Regions from separate parts of the Homo sapiens genome. Here region 2 is reported to be linked to region 1. Evidence: microRNA targets listed by miRTarBase, many of them from high-throughput screens and not tested one by one. Region 1 holds a microRNA gene; the other region holds the end of a gene's coding sequence.

The links. The annotated mature microRNA hsa-miR-4536-3p reads UCGUGCAUAUAUCUACCACAU and lies in region 1 at 4,322-4,342, shown strand. An mRNA with a match to its seed (bases 2 to 7 or 8) in the 3' UTR can be bound and repressed. Matches are read on the target gene's strand: a 7mer-m8 pairs with bases 2 to 8, a 7mer-A1 pairs with bases 2 to 7 and ends in A, and an 8mer does both.
Region 2: the mRNA of NSUN3 is a reported target of hsa-miR-4536-3p. Seed matches in the 3' UTR shown: 7mer-m8 at 3,488-3,494.

Annotation. Positions count from the first base shown.
Region 1 is chrX:55,447,241-55,455,499 of GRCh38, forward strand. MIR4536-2 (microRNA 4536-2) reads left to right here and starts at 4,255; the gene lies at 4,255-4,342. It overlaps MAGEH1 (MAGE family member H1), which reads left to right and starts at 4,887. Exons shown (of 1, transcript NM_014061.5): 1 at 4,887-6,326. The coding sequence starts at 5,135. The coding sequence ends at 5,794. MIR4536-1 (microRNA 4536-1) reads right to left here and starts at 4,342; the gene lies at 4,255-4,342. RefSeq lists enhancers at 5,100-5,149, 5,300-5,349.
Region 2 is chr3:94,125,062-94,133,320 of GRCh38, forward strand. It overlaps NSUN3 (NOP2/Sun RNA methyltransferase 3), which reads left to right. Exons shown (of 6, transcript NM_022072.5): 6 at 1,150-6,771. The coding sequence ends at 1,429. Among named protein-coding and RNA genes, the nearest start is that of NSUN3, 66 kb to the left of the region's middle. RefSeq lists an enhancer at 5,708-5,797.

The DNA.
Region 1 (8,259 bases):
GTATCAATGGAACATGTCCCAAAATAATAAAGGCTATTTATGACAAACCCATAGCCAATATCATACTGAATGGGCAAAAACTGGAAGCATCCCCTCTGAAAACCGGCACAAGACAAGGATGCCCCCTCTCACCACTCCTACTCAACATAGTATTGGAAGTTCTGGCCAGGGCAATCAGGCAAGAGAAAGAAATAAAGAGTATTCCCTTAGGAAAAGAGGAAGTCAAATTGTCCCTGTTTGCAGATGACATGATTGTATATTTAGAAAACCCCATTGTCTCGGCCCAAAATCTCCTTAAGCTGATAAACAACTTCAGCATAGTCTCAGGTTACAAAATCAATTTGCAACAATCACAAGCATTTCTATACACCAACAACAGACAAACAGAGAGCCAAATTATGAGTGAACTCCCATTCACAATTGCTACAAAGAGAATAAAATACCTAGAAATCCAACTTACAAGGGAAGTGAAGGACCTCTTCAAGGAGAACTGTAAACCACTGCTCAATGAAATAAAAGAGGATACAAACAAATGGAAGAACATTCCATGCTCATGGGTAGGAAGAATCAATATCGTGAAAATGGCCATACTGCCCAAGGTAATTTATAGATTCAGTGCCATCCCCATCAAGCTACCAATGACTTTCTTCACAGAATTGGAAAAAACTACTTTAAAGTTCATATGGAACCAAAAAAGACCCCACATTGCCAAGACAATCCTAAGCAAAAAGAACAAAGCTGGAGGCATCATGCTACCTGACTTTATAGTACAAGGCTACAGTAACCAAAACAGCATGGTACTGGTACCAAAACAGAGATACAGTCCAGTGGAACAGAACAGAGCCCTCAGAAATAATACCACAAATCTACAACCATCTGATCTTTGACAAACCTGACAAAAACAAGTAATGGGGAAAGCATTCCCTATTTAATATATGGTGCTGGGAAAACTGGCTAGCCATATGTAGAAAGCTGAAACTGGATCCCTTCATTACACCTTATACAAAAATTAATTCAAGATGGGTGAAAGACTTAAATGTTAGACCTGAAACCATAAAAATCCTAGAAGAAAACCTAGGCATTACCATTCAGGACATAGGCATGGGCAAGGACTTCATGACTAAAACATCAAAAGCAATGGCAACAAAAGCCAAAATAGACAAATGGATCTAATTAAACTAAAGATCTTATGCACAGCAAAACAAACTACCATCAGAGTGAACAGGCAACCTACAGAATGGGAGAAAATTTTTACTATCTACCCATCTGACAAAGGGCTAATATCAAGAATCTACAAAGAACTTAAACAAATTTTCAACAAAACAAACAACCCCATCAAAAAGTGGGCAAGGGATATGAACAGACACTTCTCAAAAGAAGACATTTATGCAGCCAACAGACACATGAAAAAATGCTCATCATCACTGGTTATCAGAGAAATGCAAATCAAAACCACAATGAGATACCATCTCACACCAGTTAGAATGGCAATCATTAAAAAGTCAGGAAACAACAGATGCTGGAGAGGATGTGGAGAAATAAGAAAGCTTTTACACTGCTGGTGGGAGTGTAAATTAGTTCAACCATTGTGGAAGACAGTGTGGCAATTCCTCAAGGATCTAGAACTAGAAATACCATTTGACCCAGTGATCCCATTACTGGGTGTATACCCAAAGGATTATAAATCATTCTACTATAAAGACACATGCACACATATGTTTATTGTGGCACTGTTCACAATAGCAAGGACTTGGAACCAACCCAACTGTCTATCAATGATAGACTGGGTTAAGAAAATGTGACACATATACACCATGGAATACTATACAGCCATAAAAAAGGATGATTTCATGTCGTTTGTAGGGACATGGATGAAGCTAGAAACCAACATTCTGAGCAAACTATCACAAGGACAGAAAACCAAACACTGTATGTTCTCCCTCATAGGTGGGAATTGAACAATGAGAACACTTGGACACAGGGAGGGGAACATCACACCCTGGGGCCTGTCGTGGGGTGGAGGGTAGGGGGAGGGATAGCATTAGGAGAAATACCCAATGTAAATGACGAGTTAATGGGTGCAGCAAATCAACATGGCACATGTATACCTATGTAACAAAGTTGCACGTTGTGCACATGTACCCTAGAACTTAAAGTATAATAATAATAGAAAAAGAAAATTAAATAAGTTGGAAATACAGTACGCCCAGCCAACAGGCAGACACTTGAAGAGATTATGGTAAATCCATTGCAAGGAATAACATTCAGCCACTAGAATGAAAGAATTAGAGGTATAAATTGAGGAGATTTCATTATTAATTAGGAAAAAGGTTTGCCTGGAAATTCAATATGGAATGGTTTGATTTTTATAAATGAAACAAAGTGGAAAGCCATGTGTTCTATCTAAACATATACATGCCAACACATCAGCAACCCTACTCGTTGATGTTGATCCTAGAGAAATGCATGCACATGTTCATAGGGAACATGCGCACAAATATTAATAAGAGTATTATTTTGTTTTGGAAAAATGGGAACTGCATAGGCGTGGATCATTAGGAACAGGATAAATTGAAAATGATGAAATGTACAAAATTAAAATAAATGAACTAGAGTTCCATGTATTTACATGGGTAAACATAAAAAATATAAAGTTGAGCTGGAAAACCAAAGTGTTGATCAATGTATACATTATGAAGACGTGCTTTAAATAAAGGAAGAGATTCTATATTGTGTACAGACACAGAAGTAGGTAGCAAATATATACAAGTCTCCATGGGCATAATTGCTGACTTCATTATAGAGGAGCACAGTGGGGAAGGAGAGAGCAGAGTGGGTCAGGGAAGACGTAATAGGAGGGTTTTGCCATATCCAATATATAAAAGATAAACAGTAAGTAGGGCCTAATATTTAAATTTTATACAGCTAGCTATTGGTGTTTATAATATTAATCTCTCTTCTTTGCCCTACGTTTGAGATTAAGTCGCAGTAAAAAAAAATTCATGCTAAAAACAAGCAAATAAACTGCAAAAGTAATCCTCCCATTTTTGTTTCATGAGGGTAGGATTGTACATGCTATAGACTTCCATGCAAGACCCAAATTCCTGGAAACAGTAAAATAAGTTCATACCTGTACTGAAAAACAATTCAGAGCAATTATCAATGGACCAGAAACTGCGAGAATTCTCAGAATGTGGGACAGCAGATGGAGCCAGACTACTGTTTTGAGTAGGTCATGTCCCAGAACGCGTGCAAAGGTTATCCCAAACGGAGGGCTGGCTCAAGAGTGCTCTGTGTCCTGGAGAGGTGCTTTCTTTGCTTGACCAAATTGATTTATTGCTAACTTACCCAACAGGAGGTCTCGGTGGGCTCTAATTATAAAGAAAATTTCAGCAAGACAGGCATAAAGTATTCATTTGTTTCTTAAGAGTTCAGTTAAGAACACCTATAAAATCTTTTCCATCATGAATTCCTTCAGCACGCATTTATTAAATGCCACACTCACACACCGCTTGGAAAACCTTGAGAGGCAAAATCTGTGCTTACCATGTAATAAATGCTTTTCATTTTTTATCTCATTTAATTCTCACAACCCTATGAGGGCTGTACTTTAGCCCCACTTTATAGATGGGAAAACAGGCTTAGAGAGAAGTGACTTGCTTAAACTAATACCTTGAATGACATAAGAAAGATATAGAGTGCTAGTTATAGGGCTTTCCTCAATGGAGTAAAAATGGACTCATTACCCTTTTGGGCAGATCAAGACAAGCTTCAGGGAGAAACAGGTCTGTGAGCAGTCAAATGGAATTTAGATAGTTGGAGAAGGCTGAGAAGACAGGTCAGGCAGAGCAAACAGTGAGCAAAAGCAAGCAGTGGATAAAGTTCAGAGTATGCTCTGAAAGAAGCAAAATAAATCAGGAGTCCAGGAAGACTGGAGCCTAGAAACCTTGGAGCCAATCTGAACTCCATCATCCCCTCCACATTCCCCACTTCATCCATTCTGTCTGCAAAGCCCTTCAACGGTCACCTTTAAAATGTCTTTCTGCCTCTCCATCCCCATGGCAACAGCCTTAAGGCATACTTTAGTTCCCAGTGCTTCTTATTCCAATTGCTTCCTATGTGGTCTGCCAGGAAACAGTTTGCTTTTCTGAGAGGCTGCACAAATGCAATTCCTCTGATCCTGTCACTGCCCTGCTTTCATACATACATACATACATATATGTGTGGTAGATATATGCACTGTATATAAACATAATGTGGTAGATATATGCACGATATAGGTATGTATGTATGTATGTATAAAAGCAGGGCAGTATATATATCGTGCATATATCTACCACATTTTAAAGGCTCTGCACCTCTTTCACCCTGCTTGTTTCTGCAGTCCCATCTCCTCACATCATCCAGCACATCTGCCATAACAATATTATCCGGGTCCTACATGGGACCACAAATTGATTAGTATACACACAAATGCCTTCTGAAAACAGGGCGAGTGAATGAACGCGCTGTGTAAGCCAAGACAGGAAAGGAAGGCTGGAGACAGCTGACTCCTTCCAAGAATACACCCTCCCGCCACCCCTGGCCTCCCAACCCCCAACACACACACAGCCCGTCGTCAGTGGGAATGGAGCCGACGCACTCCTTCCCTAGACCGTCGAGCCAATCTTGGAATGTTTGTAGTAGGCTGAAAATACAGAAACTTTAAGCTATTTTTTTCTCTTCTGCAAACTCCAGGCCCCTCCAATCTCTAGCTGTCATTTCTGCCCTTGTCCCACCCCTGTCGCTGCCTGCCCCTTTTCCTATCTGCTAGCGGAAGTCCCTGTGGAGGACCAGCCTACTTCCTCTTTGGTGCTAGGAGTGTGCGTGGCAGGAGAGGCGGGGCCAATTTTGCTGAGCTTTCTCGCGGGCTTGCAGCTGCGGCAAGTGCTGGCGGCGGCTGCTCGCGCAAGTCAGCTGGCGTGGGAACTACCCTTTGTAGCTGAGAACGGCTTGTTTATTGCTACAAAGACTCTATTGACATTGGTAGCTTCAGCGGCAGCAGCTTCTTACGGTATAAAGCTGTTGCTTCCTGAAGAGGCTACAAGCATCCTTCCCTAGGACTGCTGTAAGCTTTGAGCCTCTAGCAGGAGACATGCCTCGGGGACGAAAGAGTCGGCGCCGCCGTAATGCGAGAGCCGCAGAAGAGAACCGCAACAATCGCAAAATCCAGGCCTCAGAGGCCTCCGAGACCCCTATGGCCGCCTCTGTGGTAGCGAGCACCCCCGAAGACGACCTGAGCGGCCCCGAGGAAGACCCGAGCACTCCAGAGGAGGCCTCTACCACCCCTGAAGAAGCCTCGAGCACTGCCCAAGCACAAAAGCCTTCAGTGCCCCGGAGCAATTTTCAGGGCACCAAGAAAAGTCTCCTGATGTCTATATTAGCGCTCATCTTCATCATGGGCAACAGCGCCAAGGAAGCTCTGGTCTGGAAAGTGCTGGGGAAGTTAGGAATGCAGCCTGGACGTCAGCACAGCATCTTTGGAGATCCGAAGAAGATCGTCACAGAAGAGTTTGTGCGCAGAGGGTACCTGATTTATAAACCGGTGCCCCGTAGCAGTCCGGTGGAGTATGAGTTCTTCTGGGGGCCCCGAGCACACGTGGAATCGAGCAAACTGAAAGTCATGCATTTTGTGGCAAGGGTTCGTAACCGATGCTCTAAAGACTGGCCTTGTAATTATGACTGGGATTCGGACGATGATGCAGAGGTTGAGGCTATCCTCAATTCAGGTGCTAGGGGTTATTCCGCCCCTTAAGTAGATCTGAGGCAGACCCTTGGGGGTGTAAAAGAGAGTCACAGGTACCCCAAGGAGTAGATGCCAGGGTCCTAAGTTGAAAATGATGTCGATTGGGGGCGGGGGACACTGTATTTGATATTTGTGATCAGTGATCATTGTTCAACTGCGAAATAGAGTGTTTGCTTTTGATAATGGAAAATTGTATTCGTTTTAAAATTCCGTTTGTTGAGAATAACAATATGTTTAAAAATATAATTGAACAAATTTTTTTCTTTGTTTCCTGTCATTGACATTTAGTATAACAGTTTTGCTAACGTTCTAAAATGAAGTCGTTCCATCATAATCTATGATCTTGTACAGCACTTATAGAAATAAGCTGTTCTTTTGAAGTTGAAATACCCAGTAAAATGTTGAAGAAGGATGGAGGATTTCTTCATATCTGACGTTTCTGAAACCCTTTGTGTCTGCTGTTGTGTGAAGATTGACATTTACCATGATTTTCCTTAGTTACTGCAGAACATAGAGAAAAATAAAAGCCTAACGAATAGTACATCTTGCGCATTTTCTGACCACCTGTTATGTGAGGCACCAGTCTAGATTCTAGGGATACTCCCTAGTACACATCCTCCAGGTCCAAAGAATGTTCTAGATTATGTGGGAAAGAAAAATAGGTAAACTGGCAGTGCAGTAAATGCTGGGATAGAGAACGAGCCTGAAGTGCCATGAAAATGTAAAAAACCTTATGTGACCTGTCTTGGGGAGTGGGCCGGGGAAGGGAGCACCATAGGATGTGTGAAAATTCAAGAGACACTTAAATAAGTTTGGGGGGGACTGAAATATACGATCAGAATATATGATGAAAATATTATGTATTAGATATTTGATTGGATACTCCACCCAGCATAGGGGAGGGAGCACTGGCAAAAAGAAGAGGACATCACAGGGTGCCTGCCACGGAAGTAGAAAATACACAAAAATCATCTTGAGAGGAGGAGGGCAGAGAGAAGGGGTGGTTGCAGGGGAAAAGGTTGTCATGGGGTACTTCAGAAATAAAAAAAGATGAGACCGTCAGAAAATCTTGGTGAGGGGACAATCTGAGGTTTGGAAATAATAGAGAAGAAGGGGAGGGAGTAAAAATGGAGGCACTGAAGGTAGCGTGGACATTTGGAAATAAACTCTTCACCGAACTGTTAAGGTTATATGAAGGGGAAAGTGGAGAACAAGGAATGAGGCAAGGGAAGAAGTGAGCGGGGCAGACCCTCAAAGGGTGGGTGTTGTGGCTGACTTTAAACTAATGACAATAAAAATGGTTAATAATAACAACCCTGAAATAATTCGAGAAAAGGCTATAAAAAAGCAGAACTTCTGAGATACTGGATGAGCCAGAGAAAAGGCTCCACCTGTGGCATCTCCGAAAGGTAACCTTGCACTTCTCTCAGGAACTATGGTTCGTTAGGGTGCACACATTGTTTAAAAGTGTGTGTGTCCAAGGGGGCAAAGGGGCAATGGAGTAAGTCCGGATTGGTACCTGGCACGATGGCCCATGCTATACTAAGTCATGTGGGATCAGGCGCAAATCCTACCACCTTTTCTCCAAGAGCTAAGCACTGCATGAACTAGGTCCCCTGCTGGGGAGCACTAGTGACAAGTGCCCAACCTAGCCCTGTGGGGCTCATGGTAGCAGCTATAACACACAAAAGAGTGGTCAGGCTACCTTCTTCCTTCTTGACATCCAGGCTCACGCTGCTTCCAGCTGTGTGCAAAGTAACGTCACTAGGTGCAGGGTAGGCTAGCAAATGACCTTCTGGAGAAGGCCCAGGGACCCACTCTCCTCAGCTTGCAGGCCAAGGAGGCTTCAAACAAAAGTAGTAACTATGACCCCATCAGCAGCTCCAAATTCATTCAGCAAGCCAGAAAATGGTGAGCGCCTTCTGGGATTCAGACAGTGTGTTAGAAACTGGAGCTGCAGAAAATCAAAAGGCCTGTTCTTTGCCCTGGGAGGAGCTGTATTTATCAATACCACCTCCAGAGGTAAACAAGGTGGGAATCTGAGGTCCAGGTTCCTCGGTGACTTTCTCTTCTAGAGCCACAGAAGTGGCAAGAGAGAGATCCTAGACAAGACCCTATGTCCATTCCCTGCAAACCCACAGTGCTTTCCTCTAGGCCACCCTGCTGCCGGTCTCTGCCTGCTAGTGCACTCTCAAGGTCTCTGTCCTCAAAAGAAACACCACGTGAAGGCAGGGGAAGAGGTGTGAGTAACCCTGGCCGCGGCATCCAATCCTTCTGGGGACCAGGCCGGATTACATTCCTCCCCCGACCCGCCCTTTTACCCAAGGGGGCTTACAGCAGTCAGTCAGCCCCAGGTCAGTCAGCTAGTAAGTGGGAGAGCTGCAGAGTAAAAAGATTTGTTGAGCACCTGCCTGTCCCAGAGGCATGCCACATATTATCTCTGCCAGGCCGGTGTGATTACTGCCCATTTAACA
Region 2 (8,259 bases), not on the chromosome of region 1:
TGGTAACCATATATTTAGTTTCTAAGAACTCTCTTCTTGATCCTTTTTCATGGCATTCTGTTATGGATATTGTATCTTTGCTGATCTGTCTGCATTTAATAGATCATATTTCTCTTTTGTTCCCTGAATTTTCTGTTTCTTCCTGTGTCATTATTGTTTATTTTGTTCTTTCTCTTACATATTGCTTAAGCATTTCTGATCTTTAATTATCTAGCAATCCTTGGTTATACATTTTTATTTAATAATGAGACAATAAAAGTACTAGAGGTGTATTTTAAGGACGAGACCTTTTATCTGGTGATACAACTTTCTGAAGAGCTGACTGTTACTCTGGAGGCTCTCTTCATGGTAGAATGCAGAGATCTTTGATTTGGGGTCTAAAACCCATAGTGGCTGCCTTAGAAGTCTTCACAAATAGTTTATTCAATTTTCTTAGATAAAAACCTTCCAACTTTTTACCTGGTTGCCCAAATTGCAATATTGGAAGTATGGAATCAATGACTTCTTATGTATGCTTTCATATGTATGCTTTGTTTTTATTTTTACTCCCATCGATTTAAAGACAAACTCATTATTCTGTTCTCTACCCCTATTTTCCTACTTTTTGAATAGCAATCAACCAGTCTAACTTACTCTATCTTTTCCATGTTGATTGGTCTGATTATCATTTTCCAAGTCTTCAAGGATAAGTTAGAAAGAAATAGGTGTAAGATCAGAGATTGGGCACAGTGGCTCACGCCTGTAATCCCAACACTTTGGGAGGCTAAAGCAGGCGATCACTTGAGATCAGGAGTTCAAGACCAGCCTGACCAACTTGGTGAAACCCCGTCTCTACTAAAAATACAAAAATTAGCTGGGCATGGTGGAGGCCGCCTGTAATCCCAGCTACTTGGGAGGCTGAGGCAGGAGAATTACTTGAACCTGGGAGGCAGTCATCGCAGTGAGCCGAGATGGCATCACTGCACTCCAGCCTGGGTGACAAAGTTAGACTCTGTCTCAAAAAAAAAAAAAAGACTAGAAAACATCCAAAGTAATTGCAGTCTAAGTCAGAGTAAGGTTAGTTTTAAGTACGTAATCTTTGCTGTCAGACCCCCTGGTTTCTTTTTAATATACTTAACTAATCTTTTGCATTTTTCTGATTGCACACAGGTCTGCAATTAAGGCCTTACGTCCTGGAGGGATACTTGTATACTCTACATGCACGCTTTCCAAGGCAGAAAATCAAGATGTGATCAGTGAAATTTTAAACTCCCACGGTAACATCATGCCTATGGACATTAAAGGAATAGCAAGGACTTGCTCCCACGACTTCACATTTGCTCCCACTGGCCAGGAATGTGGGCTCTTAGTGATTCCAGATAAGGGCAAAGCCTGGGGCCCAATGTATGTAGCCAAATTGAAGAAATCATGGAGCACAGGAAAATGGTGACATGAATTTGTAAACTGTGTTTATGTGTTATTATATTTATATTTCTGAACTCAGTACATGTTAATATTTAAATAATTATGCAGTAACTTTCTCTGGGTCTGTTTGGAATCCTATTTAGTTAATACTTTAGCATCTTAGAATCTAGGCTTGAGAATTGTTCAGGTGTATTTTTTTCCTAGAAATATATCTGTAACAATGATTTAAGGTGGTGCAGATGGTGTTTGTTCTATATTATAAATCTGCTGTCTTTGCTTGGCATTTTATAGTTAAATTAATTAGAATATGTGGTTTTATGCATAACGTGTTTAGTTCTGTATTCTTTCTATGATAGTGCTTTGAACCTTCAAAAATTCACATTTTCCAGCGCTCCGACCATTTTCCCGCTTATCAAATGTACAAATTTGTTCAAGGTTTTTTTTTCCCCCCAACTTTTGTAACTGATTGTCTCAGAACTGATTGGTATTCTGAGACTAACTTTTTAAGCAGCACTATTTCTAGTTCTGGCAAAATAGTTTTTTTATTTGCAATGTTGTTTTCTGTTAAAGACTATATTATGTTTACTGCAAAGGTCAGTGACTCTACTGACACCAGCTTTATTTCCCCCACTTTTTTTGCATTCACAAATACAAATTGAAAGGGTAAATTATATTGAAAGGCCTTTAGAACAGCAGATTCACATGCACATGTTTGACTTTCGACATTCAGCTTATAGAATTATGGAGTCTATCCAGCAGGCTATAAAGCAAGTACTTGAGACAAAACCGGAATGATTAATAACTGCAATCACTGAACTATATTTGGAGAGTTTTGTTACATAATTGCAGTCATAATGAGCACTACAGAATCTGATTATCTTACATTCACAATCTGGAGGGGCTTTTTATTTCACTTTGTTATAAAATGTTCTCTGAGAATATGATGCCACATATTAATGCACAAGAGGGAGATGCCTAATGAGAGTGGACTGTGTGATTACCAGAACCCAGTGCCATTTACTAAGTGGCTCTCCATGTTTACATAAATCCTGGGAATACTGTATACATTTCTTCTTATGTACTTAGGGTTTTAGCTTCAGTCAGCATCACACTTTTTCTCCAGAAATTACTTCACTTAGAGTACAAACATATTTTTCCAACTATTAAGAAAAATTATGCAGCACATCTCAAAAAATAGCATCTCTTTGGAAAATAGCCTTTAAAAAAAAACAACTTTATCTGATTATAGAAATACAAAATTCTGCTAAAGCTGAATACTTTTGAATTGTTCATTATGTTCTGTGCCTTTAAACTAGAGACTATTTGCTTATTAATATTTTTTGTTTTGCAAGCATATGTAACCCGGTTTATATCATCAGGAAGTCTTAGGAAGAATTTTTTTTTCTGTACCTTCAGTCTGTTAATCATTTGTTTTCCTTTATGTCCAATTGATATGTTTAAAGTAAAGCTAAAGTCCAGGCACGGTGGCTTATGCCTGTAATCCCAGCACTTTGTCAGGCCGAGGCAGGGGGCATCTCCTGAGGTCAGAAGTTCGAGACTAGCCTGCCCAACATGGTAAAACCCCGACTCTACTAAAAATGCAAAAAAATTAGACAGGCATGGTGGCTGGCACCAGCAATCCCAGCTACTTAGGAGGCTGAGGCAGGAGAATCACTTGAACCCAGGAGGCAGAGGTTGCAGTTAGCCAAGATCTCGCCATTGCACTCCAGCCTGGGCGACAAGAGTGAAACCCCGTAGCAAAAAAATAATAATAATAGTAATTAAATAAAAATAAAGTAACGCTAGAACTGTTGGACCAAATCAAGTATATGGGTAAATACAGAAGAATAATGATGGTGGAAAAGATGTTTTCTTTTTTAAGTTATCATTATTAGTTTGTTTTTTTTATCTTCAGACACTATAGGTTTTAAAAATAGGTTTCTTTTATGTAGGTTAATCACAGAGTAAATCTGCACACTGTACTTTGTTAAATGTCGGTATTTTCCCAGTATAATGCGATGAAGCTTAATCTGAATACTTGGTATGCTATTGAATTTACTTTCCTATGATTACTGAAAAATGGATGCACGTGTGTGTGTGTGTGTGTGTGTGTGTGTGTATATATATATATATATATAATTTTATTAAAAGCAATTGCCCCAAAAGCAGAAATTGACAAGCGGGACCTAATTAAACTGAAGAGCTTCTGCACAGCAAACTAAACTATCAACAGAGTAGCAGACAACTTACAGGATGGGAGAAATATTTGCAAATTATGCATCTGCCAAAGGTCTAATATCCAGAATCTATAAGGAACTTAAATCAGCAAGCAAAAAACAAATAACCCTATTAAAAACTGAGCAAAGGACATGAACAGACATTTCTCAAAAGAAGACATTCACATGGCCAACAAACATATGAAAAAGTGCTCTTCATCACTAATCATCAGAGAAATGCAAATCAAAACCACACTGAGATAATATTTTACACCAGTCAGAATGGCTATTATTAAAAAGTCAATAAAATAAAAAATAACAGACGCTGATGAGGCTGTGGAGAAAAGGAACTGCTTATGAACTGTTGGTGGAAATGTAAATTACTTCAGCCTCTATGGAAAGCAGTTTGGAGATTTCTCAAAGAACTTTATAACAGAATTGCCATTTGAGCTAGCAATCCCATTAGTGGGTATATACCCACAGGAAAATAAATTGTCCTACAAAAAAAGACATAAACGCTTGTGTGTTCATCACAGTAATATTTACAATAGTAAAGATACGGAATCAACCTAACCGCCCATCAGCAGTTGATTGAATAAAGGAAATGTGGTACATATACCTCGTGTAATATTACACAGTGATAAAAAAGAATGAAATAATGTCTTTTGCAACAACATGGATGCAGCTGGATGCTTTTATCCTAAGCAAATTCAGGAACAGAAAACTAAATACATATTCTCACTTACAAATGGGAGCTAAATATCGAGTACACATGGACATAAAGGAACAATAGACACTGGTGACTACTAGAGTGGGGAGGGGAGGAGGGGGATGTAGGCTGAAAAACTACCTATTGGGTACTGCACTCACTACCTGGGTGACGGGATCGTCTGTACCCCAAACCTCAGCATCATCCAGTATACCCATGTAACACACCTGTTCATGTATCCCCTGAATCTAAAAAGCTGAAATTATTTTTTAATGAGAAGATAAACCATAATTATAATGAAATAGGTAATATTGAGCATTGAATATTCTATAAATTGTTTATATATGTTGTCTTTTTTTTTTTTTTTTTTTTTTTTTGAGACAGAGTCTTGCTCTGTCGCCCAGGCTGGATGGCGTGCAGTGGCATGATCTCAGCTCACTGCAACCTCTGCCTCCCGGGTTCAAGCAGTTTTCTGCCTCAGCCTCCCAAGTAACTGAGATCACAGGCACCCGCCACCATGCTTGGCTAATTTTTTTTGTATTTTTAGTAAAGATGGGGTTCCACCATCTTGGCCAGGTTGATCTTGAACTCCTGACCTTGTCATCCACCTGCCTCAGCCTCCCAAAGTGCTGGGATTACAGGCGTGAGCCACCACACCCACTGTGTATGTTGTCTTTATTGATGCTTAAAACAAACTCAGGAATAAGTATTATAACCCCCTTTTGTGAATGAGAAAACCAAAGCTCAGTTCTGTTTATAGTTTGCCAAGGCTACACTGGTAAGTAAAGGGTTCAGCCAATGTATAGACAGACTGTATAGATATATGAAGTGGGGGTGGGGGCCAAGGAGCTATTACTGCTGTTTGGAAATACTTGCCTCTTGTAGATCCAGCTTTAACATTTTTATGACATCCTAGTAATAGCAGACCCTGCACAAAGTGGATATCAGAGTTAATACTGTGAAGAGACAAAATAATGAGAATACTTTTACCAAAGATAATGAAATCTTGCATAATGTCTGCATTTTTCCATTGATTGGAGTGCATCCTTAGAAAACTGAAAATAACAAAAACCCAGGACATTTTTGGAAATTGTATGCTCTCTAGCAACTTTGCGTGAATTTTTATACAAACACTTATGAGTTATATAAAATGTTCTAAAACTAGAAAAAACATGGTCTTGTAACATGTTATTTTCTTAGATCACTGGTTTCTCAGAACATGTCTTTCTGCATGGCCTCCTCATCCCCATCCCAGGGGAGAACGTGAATGTTCCAAGGGACTTCGGCCTCTGGGGCTTCCACACTCTGGGTGTCAGGGGTACAGCTCACAGGCTTTCAGTTTGGCCACAGCTGAATGATTGAGAATTACCAGATAAATCCTCCAAATCCATTTCTCCAGAAACCTCTTCCTAGCCACACAGTGGGAGCCTTGTTTGACCTTTTTTAACCTTTCCTGGTCAGGTGCCAGGCCAGTCCTGCAAAGCCAGCAAAGTTTCATTTTCATTCAACCCTTTTTTTTTCACTTTGAATCAAATGGAATTTAGTTCCTCCCACTGTCCCCAACCCAGCTAGAGTGCAGTGGTGTCATCATGGCTCACTGCAGCCTCGACTTCCTGGGTTCAAGTTATCTTTTCGCCTCAGCCTCCTAAGTAGCCTGGACTACAGGCCCACAATACCATGCCTGGCTAATTTTTAAATTATTATTATTATTATTATTGTAGAGATGTGACCTCACCAGGCTGGTTTCAAACCCCTGGCCTCAAGTGATCCTCCCACTTCAGCCTCCCAAAGTATTGGGATTACAGGTGTGAGCCATTGTGCTCGGCCTCATATATTATTAGTTGTAAAAAAGGATGCATGTTTTCCCTCACCTTCTCTTTGGCTAATTATAAATCATTTTACTTAATATTTCATAGTTAAAGGGTAGAGCCGCGATCAAAACTGGCTCCGAGGTCCAGGCCCTTTTCCCAACACTATGCTGTCTCACAGAGTGTAGGTTGTTTGAACCCTCAAGATTATTAACTGACTTTACCCCTATTTTCCATTGTTCAGTTTCCTCCTTTTGTGTCATACCCTATTCCCAGGGGATGAAAGGATTAATCAATACTTGGGAAAAAAACAACAACCTTTGAACTGTTTCAGGCCATATTGTAAAGAAGTGTGTCTTGTGATTTTGATACCCAGAAATCTCCAGTGGAGGGTATTCTCTGCCTTCCTTTTCTTTGCAGATGCTGAGCTGAAGAATGGAAATTTGGAGCAGACTTGCAGTGTCAATTGTAAAGCAAAGAGTAATTGATATTACTTTCTGTGACACTGAGTTACTTTCAAAATAGCTTTATAAAAATTTAGGTTGCTTACCAACACATTAACTTCTCCCTGCCGTCCACACGCTGAACAGCCACTACTTTCAGAAATAGACTGAATAAATGTAATGCATTTAAATGGTTTGTACTGAATTTTTTTAAGCATCAGATATTATCTGTGGTTGGAAATCAAGGTGTCCTGCAGTTCTTTATCTTATTATGTATATTCCTATAACCTTATACTCAAGATTTCATATTACTTCCTTAGCAGTATTGTGAAAAATATTCTTTCATACAATGTGGGTAGGTAGAAAATAATAGCTACCTGCACACCTGGCTATGTGACCAAATAATCACAAATCTAATAGACCCTTATCCAAGAAGCCTTTATGCCTGGGAGATAAGCATCAGATAATCTGCATAGATGAATGCAACTCATCTGGAATACAAAGAGAAAATTAGAACCAATAGCAATAATTTTATTAGATGCCAAAAAGTCCTTTGATGCAATTGAATGAGACTACTTGTATTATGTGTTAGGTAAATTTGGCTTTGGGGACAAATAAAGCAGATAGCACAATTTATTTTCAATCCATTTATATGGTTTAAATCAATGGTTTACAATCTCCCTTTCCCTGCCTTATTGCTGCACTGGGGAGGGAAGTAAGGATGATGCCCATTTCTGATGTTACTCTTCAGGCTGACATTGAAGCTAGAAAATCACACAGATCCCATGGGTATCTGAAGAATATTCAGATGGAGATTCACAAGTTAACTAATATATGCTGATAATCTACTACTTTTGCTGAAAGCTCTAATACCATCTGTCCTGAAAACATTAAGAGTAATGTCAGAATTTGGAGTGGCTTCAGGCAAAGTCAATGGGAGAGAACCAGAAATACTATCTTGACAGAATAGTTTCTATTAATGTTATTGTGTGATAATAAAAATAAAATAAAAATTTTAAAATAATAGATGTGGGATTCTCATTAGGGAATGACTAAACAATAAAGAAGACATTTTAAAATTGATCTGTAATTCAGTGCGAAGCTTTTTAAAAAATGGGTTATACTAAATCTAAGGAGGAAGAAAGTGTGGTAGAGCTTATGTCTCTTTAAAGTTTAATTTGTTAACTCAAAGATTAACTCCATACCTTTCTGAAACTTTTCACAAATGAAAAGAGTCATTTCCTTAGTCGTGTGAGGACATATTGTCATGTTGAAACCCAGGGAAAGCATATGCTACCTTAGGAAGAGGATGTTTGCCCCACTGGAAGCTGTTTAATGGTATATGTCATGACTCAATTAAGCTTGCTATGGCTTGTCAAAAGGAATTTTCCACTGCATATTGCTATGGAATAGTCTATTACACACAAATAACTATACAGCCTAGCAGAACTAAAAATGTATAGTTCATTGAAAAATAAAACACAGAAGCATAGCATCCAGCTCCTTCTTAGTTCTTAAAAGCCAGTGGAAATAGAATTGCAGATATTAACATGAATGGACAAAGTTCAGAGAGATTGGCAATGGCAAAAAGGAAAGGAGAGGGACAGAGCTTATATCAGCTTACAATTATTAAGTTACATATTATCCAAACAAAGTGTTAACAACGTTTTCAAAATGGT